Regions from separate parts of the Homo sapiens genome. Here all the other regions are linked to region 3. Evidence: fine-mapped expression QTL. A gene starts in region 3. Each other region holds a variant in brackets. All regions are shown on one strand. Distances are from middle to middle.

Region 1 (10,811 bases), 49 kb after region 3:
AGAAAAACATGTATTATCGGAATCCCGTCTGCCTCATTGACATCATCCAAATGTTTGCTTAGTCTAATTTATCAAGAAATTGAAGATAATATATTTATAATTGAAATAAATGTTTTCCTAACACCAGGAAAGAGGAACTAAAGCATTTGCCAAGATCCTAACTTGGTCAGATACCGGAATGGCCTGAGGGACTATTTGCTTTGCAGCATTGTTAATCTCCAGATCGCAGAGACATAAACATTTACAAGTCTTCCGAAGGTCATGCAATCACTGGAAGCTGGGCAGTATATACTTGTAAGAACTGGACAAAACAGAAAAATCTGGATTCTTGTAGGAACTCTATCATGGTCCACGGGTGTAATCTTGGGCAAGCCGCTTAATCTCTCCATCTGCTACAAAAAACAGGTCCTTTTATATTCACTCACCAATTAGTGATTGAGGATGTCTTGTGTGCACTGCTCCTAGGCACTGCCTGGGGCTCATGCTGAAAGCTATGAATCTGTTATTTTATAGACTATTGCAGCCAGTTTAATTCATACACCATTTCCATCCTTCAGCACAGAATTACCTACAATTCTCATGGCTTACAACTGGAATAAACCTTTGTAATCTAGGTATCGAGGGCTCCAAAAAAGAGAGACAGTTAGTAGGCTTTGTAAAAGTGACAAAAGAGGCAAAAATGGGACCAGACACAGTGGCTCACAGATATAATCCCAGCACTTTGGGAGGCTGAGGCGGGCCGACCACTTGAGGCCAGGAGTTCAAGACCAGCCTGGCCAACATAACAAAACCCAGTCTCTATTAAAAATACAAAAAATTAGCCAGGTGTGGTGGCACACACCTTTAATTTCACCTACTCCGTAAGCTGAGGCAGGAGAATCGCTTAAACCCGGGAGGCAGGAAGCGAAGGTTGCTGTGAGCTGATATTGTGCCACTGCACTTAAGCCTGGGCAACAGAGTGAAACTCTATGTCAAAAAAAAAAAAAAAAAAAGAAAAGAAAAAAAGGCAAAATAGGGTAAGGAATAGACTGAGTAAAGAGTTAGAGATGGGTCAGAACAGAATCCACTTGGCCCAGATTAGCTTGGAGGGCAGGGAGGAGGGATGAAACCCTGAGCAAAAAGCAATAAGAGAAATTACAGATCACGGTGGTAAATTCCCAAACATGGTGTTTTAAATACCTTATTTACCACAATGTACAATTCATTATTCTTTTCTAGCAACAATAATCCGTACTAGTGTTTATGTGTTTGCTATTATTGCAAGAGAAGGAGAGGTTGAGCAAAACACCTTTGAAGATCTAATACTGTACACAGTGGTTAAGGTCACAGGTTTTAAAAGATATGGGGACTATGGGCCAAAAGCCATAGAGACTGGTTTTTGTTCCATGAAAAAGATGACATAAACTAAACATGATCATAAAAAACACCATAGTGTCCGGAAAAGTTATTTGTTTGCTTCTCAGAAGATATTTCCATACATTGCTAAGCACAATGGTTTGCTCTATTTTGTTTTTGATATATCATAATTTGATTGTCTTTTGTGATCGCACAAAAATTTTGTGCAGTTAATTGTTTTTCCTCATTGTACAACAAAGTGCTCATTAAGAAAATTCAAAGGGCTGTTAGTAACAAACAATTAGAAAGCAAACTATTTGGAAACATGCTCCCATGAGGATATGCACTCACATTTGAACACATATACACACAGATACAGATAAATGCCATCTAACCAAAAGAAATGTGAGGTATTCAATTAGCAAAACTGATCATTAACCAGAAATTTAACTATAAAGCCAAAAATACCTTTGAGCAAAAGTTGGTGAGCACATTTTTTCTTTGTGAGAGACCAAAGAGCTCCATATTATGCAATGTCAAAGAGCTCCCCTCAGCTCAGCTGTCTTAGCCAAACATAGGGCTAGCAAGGTAAAGGTACGTTGTATGTTAAGTTAGATAGAGGGTTGATAGGAATATAGAACCTAGTTATATGCTCTGAAATCAGGACAGAAGGTGTTTCCAGCCATTATGAGAGTTTGATCTGATAAGAGAACACTTATGAACAAAACAAACTCATATTTTATTATACAAAAAATAATAAAGCTTCTTGATTCATAACCCACATGCCTGATGGGCTCCCTTCCTTGTGTCAAGAAGCTAGGAAAGCTCAACTGAGACAATTAATAACATGTCATAGCTTTACATTGCCTTACAGATTGTACATTATATATAATGTATTTAAGTATGTAAAGTACAGTCACTTTATGGTCCCAAGCTTTATCCCTTACTAATTGTGAGAACTTCAGCAAGTTCTCTGAATTATAGCTTATGCATCTATAAAATGGAGCTAAGGATACCTTAATATTGGTGGTTTTAAAACAGGTCCTCAAATTCTTTGACACTCTTTCCCATCAAAAGATAGAACCCTATTCTCCTCTCCTTAAACATGGGCCAGGCTTAGTGACTCACTTGTAAAGAATCGAAGACAAGACTGGTGCAGTGGCTCGTGTCTGTAATCCCAGCGCTTTGGGAGGCCAAGTTTGAAGCCAGGAGTTCAAGACAAGCTTGGCCAACATAGCAAGACCCCATCTCTACTAATAAAATAAAAATTAACCAGGCATGGTGGCACACACCTGTAGTCCCAGCTACTCAGGAGGCTTAGGTGGGAAGATCGCTTGAGCCCAGGAATTCAAGACTGCACTGAGCTATGATCTGCCACTTGCACTCTAGCCTATGCAACAGAGCAAGACCCCATCTCTAAAACAAACAAACAAAACAGGAAGGCAGCAGACAATACTATGCGACTTCAGGGACTAGGTTTCCTAGCTCGCTGTCTCTCTCTCTCTCTCTCTCTCTCTCTCTCTCGTGTGCAATGCTTGCTCTGGGAACCCAACCACCTTGTCATTTGATGGGGAAATCAAACACTACATGTGTATTAATCCATTTTCACATGCTATAAATAAATATTTGAGAGTGGGTAATTTATAAAGGAAAGAGTTTTAATTGACTCACAATTCACACGACTGGGGAGGCCTCAGGAAACTTGCAATCATGGCAGAAGGGGAAGCAAACGCGTCCTTCCTCACATGGCAGCAGGAGAGAGAAGTGCCAAGCAAAGTGGAGAAAAGCCCCTTATAAAACCATCAGATCTCATGAGAACTCACTCACTATCATGAGAACAGCATGGGGGGAAACCAACCCCATGAGCCAATCACCTCCCTCCCTCAACATATGGGGATTACAGGTCCCTCCCTCCACACATAGGGATTACAATTTGACATGAGGTTTGGATGGGGACAAAGAGCCAAACCCGATCAACATGGAAAAGTCACGTGTTGATATTTGGACAACAGTTCTGCATGAGCTCCCAGCTAACAGCCAACATCAGCCAACCGGACACGTGAATGAGTGAGTTTTGAGTTTATTCTAGCCCCCAATCTTTGAACCACCCCAGCTGACACTGAGTTGAGCAGAGATAAACCGTCCCCTCTAAGTTCTTTCCAAATTTTTTTTTTTTGTTTTTGGAGACGAAGTCTTGCTCTGTCGCCCAAGCTGGAGTGCAGTGGCACAATCTCACCACACTGCAACCTCTGCCTCCTGGGTTCAATCTTCACCGGGAAGCCATTTCATTTGCCGTATGAAGAAGCTAGAAAGGAGAAACTTTTATTTTCAAACCCAGCAATTCCTGGCCCCTCTATATTTCACAGTTCTCTTTCACTTCTCTCTTTCTCTTGAAGTTTACTATACTCAGTGAGAAAAACCAGGCAGCTTCTTCAACACTTTTCCCAAAAATCTCCTTAGATAGACGGTTCAGTTAACTTGGTATATTTTCTATTCTCCATGTTACCACAGGTGACAGTGTTGCTAAACTTTTTGCTGCTATATGACAGCTCTCAGTAACATTTTCCTCGCTTTCCCATAAGCCCTAACCAATAACTTCTTCAAGAACCATGAGGTTTCCACTAACAGTCTCTTGAAGACTCTCAAATTCTGCCTGCCACCCAGTCCTGAAGCCATTGCCACACGTTAGCAGTTTTTGCTGTGCTACCAAACTCTGTTCCAGTTATCTATTGCTGCATAACAAACCACCCCAAAATTTAATAAATTAAAACAGTAACAACATCTATTTATTCATGAATCTACAATTTGAGGGCTGGGTGAGGTGGCTTTCGCCTATAATCCCAGCACTTTGGGAGGCTGAGGTGGGTGGATCACCTGAGATCAGGAGTTCGAGACCAGCCTGGCCAACATGGAGAAACCCTGTTCCTACTAACAAAAATTAGCCAGGTGTGGTGGTGTGCACCTGTAGTACCAGCTACTCGGGAGGCTGAGGTAGGAGAATCGCTTGAACCCGGGAGGTGGAGGTTGCAATGAGAGGAGGTAGCACCACTGCACTCCAGCCTAGGTGACAGAATGAGACCCTGTCTCGG[G/GA]AAAAAAAAAAATAAAGAAAAATATGGTTCAAAAATAAAGTGAGTTTATTTTTGGGCATGACTATAAGACTCTTTGCTGAGACCTCAGAAAGTCCATAAGGTGTTGTTTCATAGGCCCTTTCAAGCAGACAAAAGGCCTAGCAACTTTTTTGTTTGTTTGTTTGTTCCTTCTTTATTTGTTTTCAACACACCATTGCTGGCTTGAAAGGCCTACAGATCTCAAGGGAATTATTGGACCGCAGCTTTAGGAGAAGGGAGAGAAGGGCTAAAGGAGATTTATTGGTATGGGTTTTGCCTAATGGAGTTAGTTATAAATTGATTAATAAGAAGACTATATATACATATTTTAAAAGAATTAGAATTAGCTTGGAGTGAAAGGGACATTCAGGCCTTTGGATTCCAGGCTTCTAAGAGCAGGAAGCAATCTAAAAAGACTGTCACTCAGCTGCAAACATGGGCTACTTTTTTTTTTTCTTTTTTTTGTTTTTTTGAGATGGAGTTTCGCTCTTGTTGCCCAGGCTGGAGTGGCATGGTGTGATCTCGGCACACCTGCAACCTCCACCTCCCAGGTTCAAGCGAGATTCTCCTACCTCAGCCTCCCGAGTAGCTGGGACTACAGGTACGCGCCACCACACCTGGCTAATTTTGTATTTTTAGCAGAGACAGGGTTTCTCCATGTTGGTTATGCTGGTCTGGAACTCCAGACCCCAGGTGATCTGCCCACCTAGGCCTCCCAAAGTGCTGGGATTACAGATGTGAGCCATTGCACCCAGCCCAACATGGGCTACTTTTAATGGAAAAGAAAGAATGGCTCAGAAGGTGGGACCGAGAGTGCAGTGGGTGGAGCCAAAAGCAAGGTGGACAACTTCCAGGTGTAGGACCAAGCCCTATCAAGGAACTGGCAACATACGCTCAGCTGGATTTCAGAATCGCTGTGCGCCAGTGGCTGCTGTGTGCCTCCCATTTCCCCCCTTTTTGAACAGAAGCGTCTGCAGCGATTATCCTGTGCTTGCTCCACTATTGTACAATATATTGGGTGCAGTGAGCAGAGAGGCAGCTTGTCCTTTGATTCCCAAGTCTTCAGGTGGAGAGGAACTGCACTGCAGGGGCTCTACTCCAGGAACAGCACCCAAGGAGCCTCAGCCACTCCTGCACCTGATTTATATGTCAAGATCATGGACCTTGAGCCCCAGCCTGATGCTACAGGAGATACAATGTTTAAGGGGTTTAGGGCAGGGGAGTGAGTCTACTTTGCATGTAGGGGAAAATGTAGGTAATGTATGTCCAACGGGCAAATTGTGATGATTTTAAAATATGTCCACAAATTCTATGATATTCTTCTCAGCAGAAGGTAGAGCCTAATTCCCCTTCCCTTGAATCGTGGCTGGCCTCAGCAACTAACTTTTAACCCATAAAATATGGCAGAAGTGAATCTGTAAGATTTCTCCGAGGAGGTCACCAAAGGGGACACAGCTTTTGCCTTCTTCTCTTCTCTCTGGGGATGTTTACCTTCGGAACCCAGCCAGCACTGTGTGAAAAAGCCAAGGAGCCCCATGGAAAGGTCAAGTGGAGGGGCTGTGGCCATAGGCCCTGCTGAGCTCCCAGCACCAACTAGCTGACCTGTGAGATTTCAGATGATTCCAGCCACCAGCCTCAAATCACCCCTGCTGATGCCAAGAGAAGCAAAGACAAACTGTCCTTCTCAAGCCCTGCCCAAATTACAAATTAATGAGCAAAATAAATGCAGTCATTATGTTAAGGAACAAAGTTTAGAGTGATTTGTTATGCAGCAACAGGTAACCAGATATTGATATGCAAATGCCTACTCAGAATATCCACATTATCGGTCAGGTACAGTGGCTGATACCTATAATCCCAGCACTTCAGGAAACTGAGATGGGATCGTTTGAGACCAAGACCAGCCTCAGCAACACAGTGAGATCCCATCTCTATAAAAATTAAAAAATTAGCAGGGTGCAGTGGCACATACCTGTGGTTCCAGCCACTTGGGAGGTTGAGGTGGGAGGATTGCTGAGCCGAGGTGGTTGAGGTTGCAGTGAGCCATGATCATGCTACTGCACTCCAGCCTAGGTAACAGAGCAAGACCCTGTCTCCAAAGAAAGAAAGAAAAAAAATCCACATATTGAAATACAATCTTGCAGCAGTTGCAACATTTTATACATTCTGAATTACAATGGCTTCATGGTCCCCAGCTTTATCACTTACTAATTGTGGGACCTTCAGCAAGTCAGTCTCCTGAGCTTTAGTTTCTGTAGCTGTAAAGTAAAGATTAGAATACCTGTCATTTTATTTTTCCAGCTTTATTGAGGCATAATTGACATATAAAACTATATATATATATATTCTTTTTCTCTTTCTTTCTCTCTCTCTTTCTTTCTTTCTTTTTTTTCTTTCTTTCTTCTTTCTTTTTTTTTGAAATAGGGTCTTGATCTGTTGCCCAGGGTGGAGTGAAGTGGCACAACCATAGCTCACTACAGCCTTGACTTCCTGGGTGCAAACAATCCTCCTGCCTCAGCCTCCCAAAGTGCTGGGGTTACAGATGTGTGCCACCATGCCTGGCCAAAATTATATATATTTAAGGAGTACAGTGTGATGACCAATATACTATACATTGTGAAATGATTACCACAATCAAGTTAGTTAACACATTCATCACCTACAAAGCCTACCACTTGTGTGTGTGTTTAGTGAGAACACGTAAGATCTACTGTCTTAGCAAGTTTTAAGTACACAATACCATATCATTAACTAGAGTTATAGGACTTTCTCCTTAGTTCAGCTGAAAGCCTAGTTCTTGTCACATGGCCATGAGAGATTAGGTTCACAGACAATTTGGAGGATGAGAAAAATGGAATTTATTAGGCAAAAAGGAAAAAAAAAAAGGGAAACGGACTCTCGGCAGAGTGAGAGTCCTGCTAGCTGGTTTTCCAGAATCACAGATTGAATTCCAGGTTCCACCCTGGAACCGGAGAGGCCAGCTCCTCTCTGCCTGCAAATGGGGCGAAATTCCGGAGGCTCCACCCCAGTGCGCACTCCTTGGCTGTCTCAGTCACCATGTTGTATATCAGTACTTGTCTTATTTTAGAAAATCAACTGTGAAAGCCATGTAGCAAGAAGAAAAATGGTAATATATCGTAGGCTATTGTTCTGTGAAATGGCCATATATGCAAAGCTGCTCCCAAATGCTGAAGAGCCAAGAAACCAAAGAAGGTGGCCAACAAATCCAGTGTGTCAGTAAAGGGTATTTTATTGGGGAACTTACAGACAGAAGCGTGGTCTTGGGCAGCAGCAAGACAGGTAGATCTCTGCACTGTTATTGAACAGGCAAGAAGGCTGTGCGTCATGTCCTATAATTTGTGTGATAACATCAAAGTTGACATGTTCTTAGACTAAGGACAGCAAATAAAGTAGGAAGCAGGAGGCATTCACGGGACTGGAGCTAATCAGAAATCAACCGGACAGGTTAGCATCTAAGAGGGATCCACTTTTGTCTCCATAGTTATAACGCTAAAATCAAATGATTACAACTTTAAGTGTGTATAGAAGAGAAGTAGAGGGATTAGAGGAGTGGGTGGGGATGATTTTTTCTTCCATTACCCAAATTTTCTATAATATTTTTACTTTAGTAATCCAAAGAAATGCATATATTTTAAAATTTTTTTATTGTGCATTTCCAGTCCATACCCAGTTAGTTCTTTTCACTGACCTCCCTTCCTGTTAAATCGGGTGAAGTGGCTTGGAAGAGGAGCAGGGATGAAGCAGTATCCTATTTCTTGGAGCTTAGGGATCAACAGAGAATTAACTCTAGGACCCAGATTGCCTGCCTTCCCAACCTATGCCCAATTCCTTGCCCTGTAACCCTCCAATACTAGTTAGTTCTCACCTATATAAGCTGAGTATTGGATCCAGTGCCACATTAAATGCCCATTATTTGTGTAAGCAGAAGTTGCAGCTTTCTGAGCTTAGAGGCGATGTCATCCAGTGGTTGGAGGAGTTGGTCAAAATGCATGGGTTGGACACCTACCTCCACCATGTATTGCCTGGGGGCTTGGCAGATGTAATTAAGGACCTCAAGGTGAGATCATTCTGGATCAGGTGGGCCCTAAATCCAATGACAAGTGTCCTTCTAAGACAGGAAGACACAACAGAGAGCAGGAGGCCATGTGAAGACAGAAACAGAGATTCACAAGCCAAGGAATGCCTTGGGCCACCAGAAGCTGGAAGAAGGAAGGAACACATTCTCTCTTAGAGCCCCAGAGAGAGCCCAGCCCAGCCCACCTCTTGATTTCAGAGTTCTGGCCTCCAGAACTCTGAGAGAATAAATTTTCGTTTTATTAAGTCACCCAGTTTGTGGTTGTTTGCTACGACAATTCTGGGAAATTAATATGATGGATGGGTCTCACAATCCTAATACTGAAAGAAAAAAATCCAAGTTACAGAAAACACGGATACCATCTCAACAGCGTTTCAGAAACGTGAAACCCGTACATTGTACCGTTTAGGAACACATATGTATCGGCAAAAGCGTAATGAAACAAATGGGAATGATGAACACCAAATTTAGAGAAGTGGAAACTGTAAAGAGAAGGAAGGGAATACAGCTGAGGGGGCACAAAGGCTTCACCTGTTTGGATGGTAATGCGTTTCCCAAGCTGAGTGGCAGAGTCAAGTAGAATCAGTATCATAGGTTTACACCTTTGTGTAGGACTTAACTATTTCATTACAATAAAATTTAAAAGGGAAGAAATGAAAAAGGACAAAAAGGAAGGTTAATAGCACATTGAAGATGGGGGAGCTTCTTTCTTGGATAAACATACAACCATTCAAGGTCAAAGCGGGATGATTTGGTGCATATGTATCTCCTGCTACTTAATAACCAGGTGAAATTCAGTTTGTTAATATTCAGTGTTCTGATGTTGCTTATAAATAATTCCAACAGTAACCTTTTCATTGGAAAAACACCTGTACAGTGCCAACTCTGATTACTCCCTGTGGATATTGCTTAGCTAAAAATTAATATATCATACTTTCTAGAATGACAGACTGTGGGCTGGAATAAGAGAAAACAGTAATTTATAAGATGGAGTAATTATTGGAGGATTCAGGTACCATTTACTGACTTTTTTTCTTTATCCTGAAGCCAACAAAATTATCGAGTCCACATTCTCAGTCTTTTATTAGCCTTTATCTTAGGTTGTCTATCAAAAACAATATTTCTGTGGATTAATAAACACCACAAACACATAATAAACTGCACAGGCCCCTGGTGTTCCTAGGCAATACGTGAGCTAAGCTGAAGACCATCAAAGTGAGCTGGCCAGCGCTTGCTACCTCGGCGTGGCTGAGGCCTCCTCGCTGGCTGCACTACCGATAATATGCACGAGGTGGCAGCAACGTCACGGCCGCCAGCCCGGGGCCTCCACGGGCGACTGAGGCTGCGCAGTTGACTTCCTCATCACCAACAGGGCAGTCTTGGTTTCAAAACCAGATCTGGTTGTTTCTTTGAGCGCTAGGATTTAGACAAACATTGTGATTATTTTCAATTAAAAATTATTCATGCCAAACATACAACCATAATTCGATATCTAGTATAAGTAGCCTTCTCTTTCCTTTTTTTTTCCGGACACTCAATGGTGAAATGCTTCATTACTTTAAAAACATGCCCAGGCCGAACGATGGGGACTCTAAAAAGATCAGCGGTTTGCCAGGGGTTGGGGAGGAGGGAGATGAATAGGTGGAGCACGGAGGATTTTTAAGGCAGTGAAAATACTCTGTATTATAGCATAATGAGTTCTATGTAGTTATAAATTTGTCCAAACACATAGAATGTACACCATAAAGAGTGAACACATAGAATCCCAGCACTTGGGACTAAGGTAAGTTGTGGACTTTGGGTGATAAGGTAACAAATGTACCCTCTGGGGAATGTTGATAAGGGGGGAGGCAGTGCATATGCAGGGCAGGGGTGGGGATATGGGAAATCTGTGTACCTTCTACTCAATTTTGCTGTAAACATAAAACTGCTCTAAAAAAAATAAAATCTTTTAAAAATGCCTATTTCCAAAAGTGTGCTAGGTATGTCAACATTTAAAAAATAATGACAATTATATAGGAAAGGTACCCTGAAAATCTATATCTACAATATTCAAAGAGAAACAGTCTTCCAAATAATTAGCATTTTATGAAGGACAGAATCATTTGACAGCAGGTAAATTACAACTGGCTCCAGCCATCTCTTCTTGTAGGGCATTATTGCTAAAATTCAGAATCAGCTGAGAAATGGCACATCAAGGCTGTGTCTTTCTGTGCCAGATTTGGAAGCTCTGAACCCTTGTCAGCCCAACTTCTGAAGGATGATTAGATGGT
Region 2 (10,811 bases), 110 kb after region 3:
AATGTGTCTGATTCTAAAACCAGCTTTTTCCAATTGTACACACATGAGTTATCTTAGGCATTTCAAAGGACCCTCATTTCAGCCATTGCTGCTTATGACCATCCTGGGTCATGTGGGTTCATTTTCCTAGATATTATAAGAGGACGCCTTGTAAGTGTTGTACATAAAAACCAGCTGGTGTTTCTAAAGGAGGCTGTCCCTTAAAAGAGCACTCCGATTTTGAAGCTTGAATTCCCATAATTTAGGAACTTTTCAAAAGTGACCAAGGCCAGAAATGCGTTTTGCTTTGAGAAGTGTGCTTCTTCTGAGTGTCACTCCTCAGGGTGTCATCCAAAAGTCGAGACTCTCTCTGTTATGTGTCCCAGACTGCCTCTAACTGCCAGGTGGCAGTAGGGTGCTCAAGGTATTGGGGTAACCAATTCCTTAATTTTTACCTTTCCTGATGAGTTAGATTCCCTAAAATGTTCTTCTGGTGAAAAATGCCCTATGAGGCTGCTTCCCATCCCAGACAATATTCCTGACACCTCTATAAAGTCTCTAGTCACATAGAACACCTGAATGGGTCAGAGGGAGCAGTTGCCTCTTCTCTTGGAGGCGAGAAAACTCACACTATGCACCTTTCAGTTTGAAACTAACAGGAATTGGTCACAAGTGAAAATGCAAGTCTAAATTACAAGGAGTAGATAGCAGCTGCAATTTTATTTTATTTTACTTTATTTATTAATTGAGATGGACTTCCACTCTGGACCCTAGGCTGGAGTGTAGTAGTACCATCATAGCTCACCGTAGCCTCGAACTCCTGGGCTTAGGCAGTCCTCTTGCCTCAGCATCCCAAGTAGCTGGGACTGCAGGTACATGCCACTGCATCTGGCTAATTTTTAAATTTTTTGTAGAGATGCCACTGCACCCAGCCAATAGCTGCAATTTTTAAAGCATGCTATGTAATTTTAGGCCAAAACAAGTGTAACTACTGGTACCAGACTGCCCATACCATAACCTGAACTTCTTGCCCTGAGGTAGAGGCAGAAAAAGCAGTTCTCTGCAGACCTGTTTATCCAAATCTCCCATCCAGACACTGAGACCAAAGCCCTCACTCTTAGAGGAAAGAGAGGGTTTGACTTTTTTCTTATTTTTTAGATACAGTGATGGCAGTGGCAGCCTGTCTGGAGCAGCTGCTGTGAAGATGCGGGCTGCAGTAGGGGAAGTACTGCCAGGGCTGCATGCTCCATGGAGCCAGCAGGAGCTGAAACAGGCAGGAGCCCTGCCCGCTTCCAAGTTGGCAGGGCAGGAAACCTGTGCTCCCTGAGTGTAGCTGCAGCTGCCCAGCTACAGCTCCAGACCCAGGCATCCCTGTGCTCTTGGGGGCCCAGGAAGTGCCCCCTGACCCCACAGGCTCAGAAGTGCCTGCTCTCACTCCCTGGCCTCTCCCTGCACTCAGTGCCCACTCTGTTGCAGAAGCAAAGTTGTGGCCAAAGCCAGATGCTGTCGTGACCCAGCCAGGTGTGTGTGCACTTGGGGCAGTGCTGACATGCCGCCCTGGCCCCCTTTGGACTTTGGTCACTGATGAGTGCAGGAGGGAGGTGGTGGGGGGTGCTGAGGGCAGCTCGGTGTGGGCCTGCAGGTACCCCTTATCATGAAAAGCCTGGGTGCCATGGATGGAATGTTGTTAGCAGGAGGTAGACAGGTTCCTGGGCAGAAAAGAGCAGGTCCCTATCCACCTTCAAGCCAGGGATGGCCTGAAGCCTGGGGGCCAGTCTGCCACTTCCAGGTGGAGTCCACACCTGGAATGAGAACTTATGGTGCTTTTTCCGAGCCCATCCATGACCACCCATGGGCCAATTAGCATGCATTTCCTCCCTTCTGAGCTCATAAAAACCCTGGACTCAGACAGATGTAAGGACGACCTGCCTGTGAATAGGAGCTACCCACTCTGGGTCTCCTGTCTCCTGACAGCTGGACACTCAATGGGACAACCTGCCTGCAGAAAGAAGCTACCCATTTTGGGTCTCCTGAGAGCTGTTCTGTCGCTCAATGAAACTCCTCTCTACTTTGCTCACCCTGCAGTGGTCTGTGTAGCTCATTCTTCTTGTACGTGGGACAAGAACTCAGGAACCGCCGAATGGCAGGACTGAAAGAGCTGTAACACCAACAGGGCTGAAACATGTGCCCCACCTCCCTGTTTGCCACACCGTGGGCAATGAGAAGGGGAAAAAAGCTGTGGCCCTTCAGGGATCCCAGACCTAGGGGATCCCCAAGCCAGAGCTGTGACACCCTCTTTGGGGCTGTGTGGTTCCTGGCATCTCCAAGCTTCTGGGTACCACCACATTCCCCTCATCCAGACGTGGATGCCTGCAGCAGAAGCTGTGTGTGGTGCATCTGTTCCAGCCACAGCTTCACATGGAGCTGGCACCTGTGCCAGAGCCTGGAGCTGCCTGCCCTGCCACAGCAGCCAGCATCCCTGGCTGTGCACAGTGACCTCACCTCGCACTCGCTCACCCACACACCCCTCGCCACTCCCTGCCTGGCTTGCCTTTGGCAGGTGTCAGATCCAGGCCGGTAGTGCAAGCCAAGCACAGCCTGCCAGGCAGAGTGGGCAGAATGAGCCCAGCAGGTGCAAGCAACACTCAGGCAGAATGTACTGCTAGCCACAGAGGTTTCTGGCTGGTGAAGCAACACCCCAAGGATTCCATGACAACAGGAATCTCACTCACTTGCCCAGGTTAGAGTGTAATGATGTGATCATAGCTCACCGTAACCTCAAATTCCTGGGCTCAAGCAATCCTCTGGCCTCAGCCTCCTGAGTAGTGAGGCTAATTTTTAATTTTTTTGCAGGAACGGGGTCTTACTCTGTTGCCCAGGCTGGCCTTGAACTCCTGGCCTCAAGCCCTCCTCCTGCCTCAGCCTCCCAAAGTGTTGGGATTACAGAAGTGAGGCACCATGCCCAACCATGAAAGAGAGGGTTTGAAAAACACAGCCCAAATAAAATCTAGACCTCAGCTGAAAAGGAAATGGAGATCCAGATTCAGGACTGAAACTTTTGTGGCCACTGAAACCTCTGGAGTTGGAAGAACACAGTGGGTTTGTGCTGGTACCAAGCATTGAATCAGAGAAGGAATGCCAGATAGTCGGCAGTCTGTCATTTTAAATCCTGCTGGTGACATTTTAAATCTGGTGACATACACCACATATGTCAACCTGAAGGAAAAAACTGATACAAAATTAATGGAAGTAGGAAGTGTATTTGGGCCAAGTTTAAGGAGTATAGCCCAGAAGCATTGATTCAAGTTGCCCTGAATATATTCTCTGATTAGCAGCAGTTACAAGTTATATCTTATTTATTCATTTATTTAAATTTAATTTAATTTGTTTTTTTTGAGACAGAGTCTCACTCAGTCACTGGGGCTGGAGTGCAATGGCGTGATCTCGGCCTACTGCAACCTCTGCCTCCTGGGTTCAAGTGATTCTCCTGCCTCAGCCTCCCAAGCAGCTGGCTGCCGTCATGCCCAGCTAATTTTTGTATTTTTGCAGAGACAGGGTTTCACCGTGTGGGCCAGGCTGGTCTCAAACTCCTGACCTCAGGTGATCCGCCTACCTTGGCCTCCCAAAGTGCTGGGATTACAGGTGTGAGTTACTGCACCCAGCCTTTATTTATTTTTGTTTGAGACAGAGTCTAACTCTGTCACCCAGGCTGGAGTGCAGTGGCACGATCTCAACTTACTGCAATCTCTGCTTCTGAAGTTCAAACGATTCTCCTGCCTCAGCCTCCCAAGTAGCTGGGATTAGAGGTGCATGCCACCATGCCTGGCTAATTTTTGTATTTTTAGTAGAAATGGAGTTTCACCATGTTGTCCAGGCTGGTCTGGAACTCCTGACCTCCAGTGACCCACCCACCTTGGCATCCCAAATTCCTTGGATTACAGACATGAGCCACTGCACCTGGCCACAAGTCAGTTTTTAAAGGAAAAAAAGAAGAGGCAGTTTCTAAGATGTTTACCAAGAATTTACATTAAGATAACAAAAGCTGTTGATTGGTCTGTTCCTTGCATTACATTGTTCCTTGTATCCCAAATTCTAGAAACATAAAGATAATGAGTGAGGCAGCTAGTGAGGAAACTACAGAGAGGAAAAGAAAGAATAAAATTCAAAGAATTGCCCCTGGGCATGTTGGGCAGCAGGATTATTACTGAAGTTCTATCCTCATGTCTCTCCGGTCCTGTTAAATGTTGCATACCACAGATAGCTCAAAGTGTTCTGACCTATTTTTCTTTTCTCAGTTTAAACATAGAAGTAGCCAAATTGAATAATGCTATACTTCCAGACTACATCCATTCTTCTTCTCCTCCATTTAGTCTCAGTCTGTCAGAATAAGAAATGAAGAATGACTGGTGTGGTGGCTCATGCCTATAATCCCAGCACTTTGGGGGACCAAGGCAGGAGGATCACTTGAGGCCATGAGTTCAAGGGCAGTCCGGGCAACACAGTGAGACCCCATCTCTACAGAAAAATTTAAAAATTAGCTGGTTGTGGTGGCGCATGAGGCTGAAGTGGGAGAATGGCTTCAGCCCAGGAGTTCCAGGCTGCAGTGAGCTATGATTGCATCACTGCACGGCAGCCTTGGTGACAGAGCAAGACCATGTCTTTAAAAAAAGAAAGGCGGTTGTGGGGGGAATACAGGGATGTAGACATCCATAGTAACTTTAGAAATTAAAAAGGTATTTTAAAATGAATATATTTCTAAATAATATATTTCTAAAACTAAAATCCCCTTTTTTATAATTTATTGTTTCATTCTCGGGACAAAACTCTCAACTTTACAGATGTGTTATTTTAGCATATTTACTTATTTACACCCAGATGTGAGAATTTAGCCCCTATACATCAAAAGCCATTTGAATAGCTGGATTGGTGTTTTCCTCTTTCTCTTTCTCTTAATTCTCCAAGACAGTCACATTTCTGAATGCAGATTCTGCAGGCCTCATTCTGGTAGCAGCCCTTCTGGAGCTGAGCTTCTTGGACATTTGAAAGTCAATCTCCAAGACAGTTTATATTCAGTTTCATATGAATATTGAGGAGTATCAGAATATGCCAACCTAAAATATGCCTATTTGGCATTTGGCTTATTTTGCGCTAAAGCCCGCTGAGAACCAGAAGACCAGGAAATTACATTTAGAAAGTCAATTTACATATAGAAATGGTGCTTCCCTCTGTACCAGGAGGAAGAGGATCCTTAACAACTCCTATCAATGGAGAAGGTACTTCCATCTGCATAACAAACCAATGACCCTTGTTTACCATACTTTTCCTGGTCACCTACCCCTAACTTTCCTCCCCCATGCAGAAGCCTAAAACTCTTCTTTCCTTGTTTAAGCCTAAGATGATAGAAAGCCAACTTCTAACCACCTAATGGAGTCAATCAATTCTGAATATGCCCATATGTAAGCACCAGGCATATGCTAATAAACATCTGTTTATTTTTTTTTCTTGTTAATCTGTCTTTAGCCAGCCTAATTTATATGGCACCAGCTGGAGAACTTAAGATGAGTGAAAGAGGAGTTTTTTTCCTCCTCTACAGTATCTATTTCTGCATTGGAAATGGACCCACATATACACTTAAACACAGTCTTCTAAACCACCCGGCATTCAAAGGTGACATTGTCACCTACCAACCCCCACATCCAGTAAACTCATTGCTTTAGATTGAATTTCAGATCATTTCATTGTGAAAGAAAAATAAAAAGTAGGAACTCCCAATTCATTATGCCAAAAGAGAAAAGTTAAGCTTGAAAACTGAGTCACAAAAAAACTGCCTTGCCTTTTGCTCCTAAACTGAAAGGTACAGATAAAAGACCACATGCCTCCACAGGGGACCTCCCACCCTGACCCTGAAAATGAAAATTAACAGCTTATCTCTAT[G/A]GGTGCAGGACAAGAGTGAAGCAGGTGATACAGAAGAAAAAACAAATTTTCTTCCTTTCCTTTGGTATGAGCAGCTTCTCCCTTGAATCCCTCCCGCCTCGTGTGATTGTACCCTGCTCTGCAAGTTTTTATGAGTTTATAGGTTCCTGTTTTCTGTAACTAGTGTCTGTAAGTCTGTTTTTCATCTGAGTAGCACCATGGAGGTCATGAGACATGCTTGAGCAATCTTAGATTGCAGCCATCTGGGCGCCATAGTGGAGGACATGAGATAAGATTGTGCAGGCATCTTGAGCAAGCCTAGATAACAGCCACCTGGCCCACATAGCAAGAGTCACATGAAAGCCTGAGTTATGAGCCTGTCTCTGTTTGATAAACTGCCTTTGTTCTGCTTCCGTAAACCCACTTTTGCGCCACTGCATTTCGAGCCACAGATGCATGTATAAAAGTCAAGCCCTGTCTTTGTTTGGGTCTCAGCCTTCTGGATGCAAATCCGCTGAGCTGGTGCACCTAAATAAAATCCTCCTGTCCCACCTATTGGTCTCTCCAGTTCCTTCATTCCCGCAACAAGAGGAGATTAGAAATCATCTCCCCTACTTTAGACAAAGGCATATTTGACTGCTTCATCTACTCTGTTTACTTTTTTTTTTGAGACAAAGTGTCGCTCTGTTGCCAAAGCCAGAGTGCAGTGGCACAATCTCAGCTCAATCTCAGCTCACTGCAACCTCCACCTCCCGGGTTCAAGTGATGCTCCTGCCTCAGTCTCCTGAGTAGCTGGAATTACAGGTACATGCCACCACACCTGGCTATTTTTTGTATTTTTAGTAGAAACAAGGTTTTGCCATGTTGGCCAGGCCGGTCTCAAACTCATGACCTCAGGTGATCCACCTGCCTCGGCCTCCCAAAGTGCTGGGATTACAGGCGTGAGCCACCATGCCCAGCCTATTTTTTCTTATGTAAAGTACAGATTTACTGATTGTGAAATGAATACATAATTGACTGATTCCTCTACCCTCTCCTTTTCATGTGCAATATGTGGATTCACAAGAATGTCACCATACCCTCCCTCTTTTTTTCTTTCCCCTTTCCCTTCATGTCCAGTTTTCCCCTTTAAATGTTGAAGCCTTCAAAATCCTCTTTGGGGCCGGCCGCAGTGCTCACATCTGTAATCCCAGCATTTTGGGAGGCCGAGGCAGGCAGCTCACCTGATGTCAGAAGTTGGAGACCACTCTGGCCAACATGGCAAAATACCGTCTCCACTAAAAAATACAAAAATTAGCTGGACATGGTGGTGCACACCTGTAATCCCAGCTACTTGGGAGGCTGAGGCAGGAGAATTGCTTGAACTGGCGAGGCAGATGTTGAACCCAAGAGGCGGAGGTTGAAGTGAGCTGAGGTTGCGCCATTAAACTCCAGCCTGGATGACAGAATGAGAATCAGAAGGAAGGAAGGAAGGAAGAAAGGAAGGAAGGAAGGAAGGTTGGTCTTCAGAAAAAGTATGGGCTGCAGATCCTACCGTGGCTTGTGTCTCTTTTTCCTGGGTGTGTCCTCAACTTCAGCAAAATAAACCTCTAAGCTGATTGAGACCTGTCTCAGATACTTTTTGGTTTATACCATCAATAAATAGTTATAAATATTTTCCCCATTAACATCTAGTTTTGGGTGTTGAGGCAAGTTTTCCAGTAAAATTAACACTGGAAGAAGTGTTAGAGTAAAATGTTATAATTCTTTAGATGATTCTATCTTGTTTTGTATCCAAACCTTGAATCTCAATATTATTAAAAGTGAATTTTCTGGCTGGGCATGGTAGCTCATGCCTATAATCCCAGCACTTTGGGAGGCCAAGGTGGGAAGATTGCTTAAAGCCAGGGGTTCAAGACCAACCTGGGCAACACAGCAAGACCACATCTCCAATAAAAATTAAAAATATTATCTGGGTGTGATGGTGCACACCTGTAGTCCTAGCTACTCAGGAGGCTGATGTGGGAGGATCTCTTGAGCCTAGGAGACTGAGGCTGCAATGAGCTGTGATTGCACCACTGCACTACATACAGCCCAGGTGACAGAGTGAGATTGTCTCAAAAAAAAGTGAATTTTCTTAATATCATGATAACAAAATAACAAATATGCTTTTCACTCCAGCAAACACCCAACACCCTGACCAATTTAATATAATTGGTAACCATAATGTCTGAAGAACTTCAGTGACTTTCCCTCTTCCTTACATCTCATTGTACATTTACCAAGCTCTCTTTGGGCCCTCAAAAATAAAATTCTTGAGATTCATTTCATCTGTGAGATCCTGTCACAGTTACATTAAATGACAAGAGATTCATTTGTTTGTTTTTGGAATCTGAATGGTCTCCAAATTTCTTTAGGGCTCATTCAAACTTGAAAAGTAGTCCTAGGCCACAAACATAGAACCCAGAAGAAATCTGGGACTGAAAAGGGCAAATTGCATCATGACCTCAGATTTTTCCAAATTGAAATTATTTGCATGAATATTATCTGATACACAAACTTCACATCCATTCAATTCTTATTCCCTGACTACCCAGCCTCACCCCAGCTGTTCACCATAGTCTGCACCTGCAGGCCCAACACCCTTTAAGGACCCCTCAGATTTCAGAATAAGGAATTGCATATGGTGTGACTCAAGGAAATCTCCACTAGCAAGTAAAGTTTATAAGTGATTCCTTCCTTCCTTCCTTCCTTTTCTTTGCCTTTTCCTCTCTTCCACCCTTCTCCCTCCTCTTCCTTCCTCTCTCTCTTTCTCTTTCTTTCCCCCTTCCTCCTTCCCTCTCCCTCTCTGTCCCCTTTGTCCTTTCCCTCCTGTCTCCTTTTGGAATGATTTTAGCATTCTAGGTCTCCATGAGAACTTCAGGCATTGGCTTCCTTAATCTGAAATCTTGCCAACATGTACTAATTTCTGGATTTCCAATAACCTAGTCTCCCCAAATTAGGAAACTGACTCCAGTCAAAATCAATAAATACCATTGACTTGATCTGGTTTTGATTTGGTTCTTGTCACTTATAATCCTGCATTTCTTAACTAATACAGGAACACTCTCTCATGTTTCTTGCTAATCACCATTTTTCCAAGGCTTGGTTCAGTTTGTAATATCCCTCAAATCATTTTAGCACCTCCTGATTTACAACCTGGGTTCCTAAATACTTTTGAATTTTTTAAGTCACCCATAAAAGAAGCCACCACTCAGCTGAGTACAGTGGTGTGCACCTGTAGTCCCTCCCAGCTACTTGGAAGGCTAAGGCAGGAGGACCCCTTGAGGCCAAAAGTTTGAGGCTACAGTTCTTATGATCATATCTTTGAATAGCCATTGCATTTCTGTATTCCAGCCTAGGCAAGATAGCAAAATCTTCTCTAAAATAAAAAAAAAGAATCCCCTCACTTCTAATGAATGGGCAGTGAGTAGGTCATGCATAGGATTGTGCTCTTCTTTCTTACCACTGCTTATTGGGCCAGAAACCTGATCTGACAGAGGCCAGTCAACTAGTCAATCCACAGATATTAATTAGGATATTGCACTGAGACCATGGTGCAGTTGGAACCAAGAGCAAGATGAAAAAGCAGAGGATAAGTAGTTAGCAGAAAAAGAATGCAGCAGAGGTGGAGAAAAAAATAGTTTGTTCCAAGAACTTTATACTTATTATTTCTCTCTTGGAGATGTCAATGCTATGGATATACCTCAACAGAAACAACAAACTTTCAAAGGCACTGTAGATTTCCATAAACAGTGTATAGCAATTTATCCTATGATTTACATAAGAAAATGTTCAAAGGTTTAGCTACAAGTTTTTTTTTGCCATGTGTTATCTATAATAGAAAAATATTAAATATGTTAAATCTAAGAAAAATTCCCTAAGTAAGTTATGCTGCATCCATCTAATGGAATTTTTTTTTTTTTTTTTTTTGAAGACACAGTCTTCCTCTGTCACTCAGGCTGGCGTGCAGTGGTGCAATCTCAGCTCACTGCAACCTCCACCTCCCAAGTTTAAGCAATTCTCATGTCTCAGCCTCTGGAGTAGCTGGAATTACAGGTACACACCACCCCGCCCAGCTAATTTTTTGTATTTTTAGTAGAGATGGCATTTCGCTATGTTGGCCAGGCTGGTCTCAAACTCCTGGCTTCAAGTGATCCGCCTGCCTCAGCCCTCCCAAAGTTCTAGGATTGCATGCATGAGCCACCATGTCTAGCCCCATCTAATGGAATATTAAACTCGCATTTTAAAAATATTCTATATAGGCCAGGCATGGTGGCCTATACCTGTAATTCCCGCAGTTTGGGAAGCTGAGGCAGGTGGATCACCTGAGGTCAGGAGTTTGAGACTAACCTGACCACCAAGGTAAAACCTCATCTCTACTAAAAATACAAAATTAGCTAGGCGTGGTGGTGCATGCCTGTAATCCCAGCTACTTGTGAGGCTGAGGAAGGACAATCACTTGAACCTAGGGGGCGGAGCTTGCAGTGAGCCGAGATCATGCTATTGCACTCCAGCCTGGTCAACAAGAGCAAAACTCTGTCTCAAAAAAAATATTCCATATATATATAATTGTTATCATGGAGTGATCTCTAAGCTACACTATTAACTAAAAAGAGCTTGCTATAAGCAATATGCATATAAAATACCATTTAAATAAAAAAAGTGTTTGTGTTTGTAGAGAAAGACTTCAAAGCATTGTTACTAAAACACACTTATTGCTTCTGGGCCAAAAGAAATGTGAATAAATAACTTTTACTTTTTTATTCACGTTTTTCTTAGTTGCTTGAATTATCTACATGATTATGTGTGAACTTTATAAGGATTTTAAAAACCACAATAATATGTTCTGTTATTTAGTTTTTAAAAATCTCTGGATTTTAGATCATTATTATTCTGTG
Region 3 (9,309 bases):
CTAGGAGAACAGTAGTATCAGGTCAGAATATTTCCCCACTTGTATCTGGTCTTGCAAGAAATAGCTGGTTTGCACAAAGGATTTAATTGAAGTGAGTTTAATAAATGGACTATTAACAGAGGTGCAACAGCCTTAAGGGAACTCGGCAAAGAGTGGTGAAGAACCAGGGACAAGCACAGCAGGAAGCCAATGCCACTCATAGACGCGTAGAAGCAAGTGGTGATGGTGTTACTGGACCCCTGTGAGAGCCACAGCTGTGGAGAAGGGAACACTTGAAAGTCCCGTGGCAAAGAGGAATGCAGCCACTGCAAAACCATGTCCCAACAAGGAGTCACAGTGGGATAAATAGGCTGACCTGGCTTCCTGCCTTCTAATCCCCAGTCAGCACCAGCCATCAGCCAAACCCAATTGGAAGCCAGAGGACAAGGAGAGTCAGATGACACAGTTGTAGGCGTCAGCCTCCCAGAGCACAAGCCAAGGCAAAGGGTGGAGAGTGGAGGGGAAAACAGAGAGGAACCAACACACAGTCAACAATCAGAAGTGAAAAATGTTCGGCTTATCCCACAAAGCAAACCACTGTGTGCAGCTTATTACGACTTTCTGTTAGCATACTGGACTTCTTTTTTTTTTTTTTTTTGGAGTCATGTGCGCCTTTATTAGCTGAGCCATTACTTGAGAGGGATGAAGCGGGAGGAGTGGGTGGCCCCGATGCCGGGCCGGCCGTGCTTTACGGGCTTGTAGGTGATGGAGAACTCGCCCAGGTAGTGGCCGATCATCTCGGGCTTGATCTCCACCTGGTTGAAGGTCTTGCCGTTGTAGACGCCCACCATGCTGCCCACCATCTCGGGTAGGATGATCATGTCCCGCAGGTGCGTCTTCACCACTTCCTGCTTCTCCATGGGCGGCGCCTCCTTCTTGGCCTTGCGCAGGCGCTTCAGCAGGGAGTGCTGCTTCCGCCGCAGGCCCCGGTTCAGCCGCCGCCGCTGGCGCGCACTGTACAGCTGCATCGGCTGCTCCAGCTGCTCGTAGGACATGTCCAGCAGCTGGTCCAGGTCCACGCCGCGGTAGGTGAACTTGCGGAAGGTCCGCTTCTTCTTCTGCTCTACTTCTGCCATCTTGCCGGATCCTCAGAAGAGCAGCATACTGGACTTCTGTATGCACCAGAAGAAATGCAACATTATTTTGTGGAAGTTCAAAAGACAGATGGCATCTAGGGCTCCCAGTGCCTCATCTCCTGATGGGTGGGATTTGGATTTTCTTTCCACAACCCTCACAACATGTCTTCTTACTCTACATTCTACATCTGTGTGAGGGACAAAAAATTCTGCATGAGCATGTTTCTAGCATCTAGGTGTTTTTTTTGTTTGTTTTTTTTTTTTTTTTTTTTTTTTTGAGACAGAGTCTCGCTCTGTCGCCCAGGCTGGAGTGCAGTGGCGTGATCTCGTCTCACTGCAAGCTCCGCCTCCCTGGTTCACGCCATTCTCCTGCCTCAGCCTCCCGAGTAGCTGGGACTACAGGTGCCTGCCACCACGTCTGGCCAATTTTTTGTATTTTTAGTAGAGACAGGGTTTCACCGTGTTAGCCAGGATGGTCTCGATCTCCTGACCTCAAGATCTGCCCGCCTTGGCCTCCCAAAGTGCTGGGATTACAGGCGTGAGCCACTGCGCCCGGCCAGCTTCTAGGTTTTTAGGAAGGCCATCTTCTTCAATGCTCTCCCCCACCTGCTACATCAGGAATCACCCAACAGCATTGCTGACAGGTTATTGAGTCTGATTAGGTACTTTGGTGACAAACTGCTTACAATCTCCAGAGGGAAACTTCTATCATTTAACAACTCTGTTTTAAAAAAGTTCACAGGCAGGGGTGGTGGCTCATGCCTATAATGCCAGCACTTTGGGCCGCCAAGGCAGGTGGATCTCCTGAGCTCAGGAGTTTGAGACCAGCCTGAGCAACATGATGAAACCCCCTTTCTACCAAACATACAAAAATTAGCCAGGCATGGTGACACACGCCTGTGGTCCCAGCTACTTGGGAGGCTGAGGCAGGAGGGTGAGTCCAGGAGGTGGAGGCTGCAGTGAGCCAAGATCATGCCACTGCACTCCAATCTGGGTGACAGAGTGGGACCCTGTCTCAAAAAGAAAAATAATTAATTAATTAATTAAAAGGTTAACAGTAAGCCACAACAATGTTTATTGAAAAATTTCCCCTTCTCAGTGACAGTTTTATTTAATATCAAAGTTAGGTTCTTAAAAGATAATTTAAAAGTTGAAATTCTCTCAGTTTTACATATAACTTCAAGATGATTCAACACCATTGGTACCATTTGGCCATGTTTTCATCCTCCCGAAATGTTTTGTTAAATGGGGTCTGGAATCCCAGAGATTCTCATCTGCTGCTGCTATGAAGCAAAATTAACTCAAGAGTGGAGTGAAGGTGTTAGGTCAATGGGGTGAAAACATTAATTGAGGACAAAGACTAGATACTTTTAGGGAGAGGGATAGGGATACAATGATGTCATTATAGAATTACAAGCTAAAGTTCGCAAAGGAAAAGAATCAGTGTAAGATGAAACAGGCAATGTTTGCAGCACTCAGGAACCAAAAAAAGGTCTGAAAAAATAAAACCGGAAGATTCAGGGATAGTTTCCTTTTATTCCTAGGGATCCGCTCTCACTCTTCTCTCTTCTGCTCTGTGCCCTAAGTTGACCTGGGATGGATACATGGACTGCCCTGTGGCTTCTGATTAGGTTCTGGTTAGCCCCTGGGACACCCTAGGCAGAAGATCAGAGGGGAGAAGAGTAAGGCTGGAATATTTATCTGCTTCCATCTTTCTCCCTATGAGGTCTCTGCAGGCTGGCTGCATCCCTGTACTCAAGGCCTCTATCGGACTTCCCCCTCCGCACAATTTTCTCTCTGGATTCCAGTAATTCTCTGCCCTTCAGACCTGGGGCACTGCCTAACCCTGAGGTTTCCTACACTGCCCACAACTTCATAAACAGTCTTGTTCATTATGAAATTACTCAATTCCAATATGCTGTTTGTTTTCTGCCAGGACCCTGATTAACACACTCAGTCTCATTAGCCTCCCAACACATGTTTATTGAGTAACTACCACATCCCAAGGAGGAATAAAATGATCAATTAGAGAATCAATGCCTTCAATAGGGCAGTCTGAGAGTGGAGACAGCCAGAGAAGCAGATCCTTATATTACATCCTGACAGGTGACACAAGGAGGCACTGGATGGGGAGGTCAGTGGGATATAAAAGTCTGGGCAGGGGCAGACTCAGGGAAGGTTTCTCAGTGGAGATGGGGGTCAGGGAAATTTAGAGGCAGTGGCGTGGGTAGGAAGTGGTCAGAAGCTGCCAGAGCAGTTTACAGCCAAGGACATCAGGGCCAGTCAGGTTGTGGTAAGAGACTGGCAGGGGGTGCTAGGCTGGACCAGATCAAAGAAAGCCTTGTGCTGGGGAAAGGTATCCTTCTCTTCCATTTGCTTACTCTCCCCACCAAGGGAAAAATAATGACACAGGTGAGGTCTACAGCCTTTTACTCTGAGCCCTTAATCCTGCCCTACTACCATGGCTTGCCACTCCTATTTCCTTAGCCTGCTTTGAAAATCATCCCCGTATACTTCCTGCACATTCTAAGGTCTTTCAAGACGGCAACAAGACAATATAGCAAAGTAGTCCTTGGAGATGAGCTACAGAAGAGGGCTAGAAGTGAACGTTCCCAAATGCATTCTGGAAGCCCTGGCAGTCAGAACCCTTTTTCTTATAATAGCATTAGATAATGCTGACATTGTTTTTGTCCAGTGGAGAAGGGTGAGGATAATGTTGGAAAGAGGGCAGGGAGCAAGCTTCACTTCATCAAGGAGGGGCTTTGGTTCAAATTGGTTTGGGTGGGCGGGCACTTTGAAAATCCATTTGTCACACTAAACGGCAAGTCCAGGTCCAGGAGGTTCCTGTCTTCCCTCTCTCAAGAGCAAACTGCAAGTAGTTTCATTGCAGGATAAGGCCAAGCCCACCGCTGCCCATGCTGTTTTTGTTTTGTTTCCAGACAGAGTCTAGCTGTCACCAGGCTGCAGTGCAGTGGTGCGATCATACCTCTCCTGAGCTCAAGTGATTCTCTTGCCTCCACCTCCCAAAGCCCTGGGATTACAGCTGTGAGACACCTCATGGGGACCCGGTTTACTGGGTTTTTTTTGTTTTTTGTTTTTTGTTTTTTTTTGAGACAGAGTCTCACTTTGTCACCCAAGCTGAAGTGCAGTGGTGCAACCTCAGCTCACTGCAGCCTCGACCTTCTGGGCTCAAGTGATCCTCCTTCCTCAGTCCCCCAAGTAGCTGGGGCTACAGGTGCATGCATTTGTATTTTCAGTAGAGACAGGGTTTCACCTTGTTGCCCAGGCTGTTCTCAAACTCCTGGACTCAAGTGATCTGCCCGCCTTAGCCTCCCAAAGTGCTAAGATTACAGGTGTGAGGCACTGCGCCTGGCCTTTACTGTTAACTTAAAACAAAAAATTATAAATTTGAAAAAAGAGGAGACTTTATTTCTTATAAAAGGTTATAGCCTGCAAGGAGGCCATTCCATAGGCTGATAAACATAGCCTCTGGCCTAAGACCAGAGACAGGCACTTGGAAGGCAGAGGGGTTGGGGTAGGAGCTTTATGCTGAACAGTTTGGCCAAACATACATACGTAACAGGTTACAGGAGGAGCTATGAATATTAATGGAGGTGGTCCTTACACATGCATATTGAACAAACATGCATGTAACATGTTCTCTTTGGGGTGGAGACTTAACATTTAATTGTATTACTTCAAATACATTTAAATGTATTACTTCAAACCTACACTTCAAAAGGTCTTTTCAGGACGTGAATGCATACAAGTGCACAATCCCTGTACACTGGCCAGAACCGGTCCATGGTCGGTCTTCTTATCATGAAAAAGTTCCTGAAATCAGCCCAGTGAAAGCTGTAGTTCTGGCTGGTGCAACAGGGGTTCAGCTGGTCAGCATCTGTGAACTGATTAAGTTGTAATTGTTTTAATATTGCTTATCTCAAGCCAGTGCTTGTTTAGCCTCTAGAGGAAAAGAAAACCTTTGTGGCAGTTAGACCATAGTTTATTTCTTAAGTGTAGGAGTGTGTGACTTAGGTCCTTTTTATAATTTGATGTCTTATTGCTACAAAGAGTCTGTTCTGTCCGCCTTATGATTTCTATTTTAAACATTAATGCTAGTCAGCTGTTGAGTCTAAATTCCAAAATGGAGGGGGTAGACTTCCCTTCCGGCTGTAGCTAGAAACTCAGCTTTAAGGTTTTTCTGGGGTCTGCTTGGCCAAGGAGGTCCATTCAGTCAGTGAGGGGCTTAGGATTTTATTTTTAGTTTACACCACCTTACAGGTTCCTCCTTAACACCCTTTGATGTCAGAGACAGCCAATTCTCCAGCACTGTGGCTAAGGAGGCTTCGTTAGTAGTTAAAAGCACACACATAACCCTACCCAACGGATCCCTCTCTTCTCTTAACCAAGAGGGCGCACCACTGCCCTACTCAACCTCCCCACAAATAAGGACGAGACACGGGAAGTGTTAAAAGCAAGTGGTGAGTATAAAATCCTCGGAATTTTCTCTTTGAGCAACTAACTAGGTCTGTTACTGAAGCCCTCTGCGAGCTTGGATGCTGGACGAGGGAGAGGGTGAGGCCACCAGGCAATGAGCGCCCTCGGCGGCCGCGTGATCCCGGGGGTGGGGCCCATTTCTGAGTTGGGGCCAGCTCCCCACCCCCAAGAGGCCCCACATTCCGGGCCAGCAGCCCAGAAAGTCCCTCCCCGCAGGCGGAGACAGCCCCAAGAAGTCGACGCCCCGGTCCCGCCGCCCGGCCACTACCCAGAGGGCTGCCGCCGCCTCTCCAAGTTCTTGTGGCCCCCGCGGTGCGGAGTATGGGGCGCTGATGGCCATGGAGGGCTACTGGCGCTTCCTGGCGCTGCTGGGGTCGGCACTGCTCGTCGGCTTCCTGTCGGTGATCTTCGCCCTCGTCTGGGTCCTCCACTACCGAGAGGGGCTTGGCTGGGATGGGAGCGCACTAGAGTTTAACTGGCACCCAGTGCTCATGGTCACCGGCTTCGTCTTCATCCAGGGCATCGGTACTGGCACCTCCTGGGGGGGTGCGGGGAGGAAAGCGGGGAGAACGGCGGGGGCAGAGGGTCCTCCGTGAAGCCCCTTCCAGCTGAGGAAGTGCTGGAGGATCGCGGGGCCCGGAGGAGTGCGGTGAGGAGCGCGCGGGAAGCCAAGTCGGCTGGGCGGGAGGGAGGCTGGCTGGCTCTGGGGCGGGACAGAGCTGCGGTTCAGGAGGATCGCCGCGAGCGCGGGGCCGGGGGTGCGCGGTGGAGACGCGCTGCTGGGGGCGGCGGAGCGGGGCCGGCCCCACTTGGTTAACTCTTTGCGGCGACTGGCTAGGACGCACTGGAGGGGCCTCCAAGACCCAGAAACTTGAGCCCGGGCGCGATGCCGGAGCGCCGCGCAGTCGGGCCGCTGCAGCCCACGCGCCCCGGAAAGTCGCCCCTGTGGACCGAGCCTGCGCGATCGGGGGCGCGGAAACACTTTCGCCTCAGCCTTTTGCTGAACTTGCTTCCAGGCTGCAGATGAGGAGGGGAAGGCAGCGGGGAAAAGATTGCCGGAGCGAGAATTTGCCCGTATTTGTAACATCCTCGGCCCTGGGTAAAGGGGCTGGCCAAGGGGGGCGAGTGAAGCATCCGCCCTGGGTTCCTCTCCTCCTAGAGTGTTAAACTCAGTCGAGTCCGGGAAGCTGCCAGGACTTCCAAGTGTGTTTCGCCGCCCTGCCCAGTCATTGGACGGTCTTGAGCCCGACTTGTTTATGTGGCAGAAGAGTGGCGAAAGTTCCCCCGCGGGGCTTCCTATTGGGCACTGGCCCAGCACTCCGGGTGGGAGATGCCCGGAGAGGGCCCGCGGCTGCCTGGCACCGAGGGATGCCTCTGCTCGGGATGCCCCCGGCGCAAGCTGCGTCCGTGTTTGGCCCGCGGCGAGCCAGCCCCGGGCCTGCATTCTCTGGGCTGAGGCTGGCGCGGGGGAGGGGCTCAGCAGTCGCTGGCAATGTTTGTTGTCATTGTGTAGTGCCTCTCAATGTCCTGACTGCTTCCTTCGGTTTGCCGTGTAGCTGGAGGAACCTCTAGCTTTTGGCGCAAACACCATTTATTTGTAACCACTTCCCCAAAGGCACGGCCTTCAGAAAGTAGTTAGAGAAAGGCAGCAAGGGGTGGAGTGGTGTTATGTCGCAGAAAATAATCGAGAGGAGTAGCAAGGGTTTGGAAAGATATGCCCACTGGCCGAAATCTCTAGCTTTGCCTGCGGGCAGGCTGCCTTTTCTTCACCAAATATTTAACTCCCCACAAACGAGTGTGCAAAAGAGTGCTGACCTCATTCCTAAAGAAAAGTGATTTTGGCTTTTGTTTTTGTTGGTTGTTTTAAACTTGTACTGCAGCTTTGGCAAGTGTGGCCAGCATTCTCCCACTCTGGAATGTAGTGGAAGGTGTTACTAACCCTCAGCATTCAAAGGCTTCCCTGGTGTGAGATCGGCATCAGGGTGTGAGATCGGCATCAGGGTGTGAGCACCACTGGGCACCTAAGGCATTTCGTTGCGTAACTCTCAGTTATTTTGCCACTATGCTTATAAGAAAAAAACATACTCAAGTTCCAAAGTAACTGTCAGAAGCACTCTTTCCTTCGTGGTGGAGCCCTTAAGTTTGGCCCCGAGCTGTCTACACCTTGTTTGCTCAAAGAGTAGAGCCAGTCTCCTCTTCTACCCAACTCTTCAGAGCAGCTTCTAATACCAAAAAGCTTTCTGGAGGTCTTGGAATATCTTCTCATAATTGAGGGTAAGGGAAACACAAGTGTTATTGCTCGTTGCCTGACTTGCCACAGAGGAGAAGACATCAGAATGGCTAATAGTGATTGCATGCTGTGTGTCCACTAAGTGCATTATGTCACATCACATGTATGTAAGAGTAAACTGAGGCAGAGAAGTTATGTAACTTACCCATGAAAGTTGTTTTAAGTCTTTTCAGTGACCTTATCGTCAAAGTTGGATTCTCTGCTTTTATGGCAATATGCTTATTTTCTGCCAAATCTTTTTAGACAGCGAAAACCTTCATCTAAAATATGTTTTGAAACTCTTCATTCATGTTAGAGTCCAATATACGGTTTTCTAAAAGGTTTTTAAATTTCTCTAAACTTTGTACTTCTCTTAATCTGTTCATACTTAACTCTTGGACAAAAATGTGTAAATTTTGGCAATTTTCATCTGCTGCTCTTACGAAAATCTTGTTTCTTTTTTTCTTTCTTTCAAGACGTAGTCTTGCTCTGTCGCCCAGGCTGGAGTGCAGTGGCGCAATCTTGGCTCACTGCAACCTCCACCTCCCAGGTTCAAGCAATTCTCCTGCCCCAGCCTCCCCAGTAGCTGGGATTACAGATGCCTACCACCACGCCCAGCTAATTTTTGTATTTTTAGTAGAGACGGGGTTTCACCATGTTGGCCAGGCTGGCCTCGAATTCCTGACCTCAAGTGATCCGCCTACCTCGGCCCCCCAGACTGCTGAGATTACAGACGTGAGCCACAGTACCCGGCCGATCTTGTTTTCTTTAGGTTCAATTACTGTATTTGTATCAATGGTCCAGAGTTTGTCCCGTCATTACTCATCCTGTTTCCTGTTTGGATCCTGGATGTGCAAATCACTTTAATCATAATGCATTTAATTGACATGAGCATAAATGTTTTCATACATGTAGGCACATGTATAGTTCTCCCCAGTTCTTCCATATCTTGGCCAACCCATCCACATTCCTCACCCTAAGTATTAGGAAGGCTCCAGTGGAAGGAGGGGGAGTAATAAATAAACTTTATAGGCTGCGAGGGACCCACATGTTACAGACTCGCCATGTTATAACAGACTTTTTTACCGTGTGTGATTGCTGCAAGGAGGAAAATTTTAGGCTATGAGATTTCAAATCTCTAACAAAGAACACGATGTATTGGAGTTCTTCTCTTCTGTAATACACAAATATTTGGAGATGAAGAAGAGAAGGCTAAAGTACAGTTATTACTCTAAGTATAAAATGCTTTAGAAATGCAATATACAAATAGTAAACAATATTTGAAACTAAGAACAAGTATGAGTCCTTTGAAACACCTTTAAGAAGTAGGCTCTGGGCCGGCACAGTCCAGCTACTTGGGAGGCTGAGGCAGGAGAATTGCTTGAACTCGGGAAACGGAGGTTGCGGTGAGTCGAGATCTTGCCATTG

The links. PIP is the estimated chance that this variant, and not a neighbour inherited with it, causes the effect.
Region 1: its variant is fine-mapped to the expression of CYBRD1 in subcutaneous fat (TwinsUK, PIP 0.95).
Region 2: its variant is fine-mapped to the expression of CYBRD1 in subcutaneous fat (GTEx, PIP 0.98).

Annotation. Positions count from the first base shown.
Region 1 is chr2:171,564,435-171,575,245 of GRCh38, forward strand. No RefSeq gene overlaps it. Among named protein-coding and RNA genes, the nearest start is that of CYBRD1, 47 kb to the left of the region's middle. RefSeq lists a silencer at 3,473-3,644. The variant G/GA (reference allele first, on the strand shown) is at 4,425.
Region 2 is chr2:171,625,128-171,635,938 of GRCh38, forward strand. No RefSeq gene overlaps it. Among named protein-coding and RNA genes, the nearest start is that of DYNC1I2, 57 kb to the right of the region's middle. The variant G/A (reference allele first, on the strand shown) is at 5,914.
Region 3 is chr2:171,516,602-171,525,910 of GRCh38, forward strand. It overlaps CYBRD1 (cytochrome b reductase 1), which reads left to right and starts at 5,873. Exons shown (of 4, transcript NM_024843.4): 1 at 5,873-6,137. The coding sequence starts at 5,945. It also overlaps the pseudogene RPS15P4. RefSeq lists an enhancer at 5,962-6,071 and silencers at 6,182-6,291, 6,442-6,511.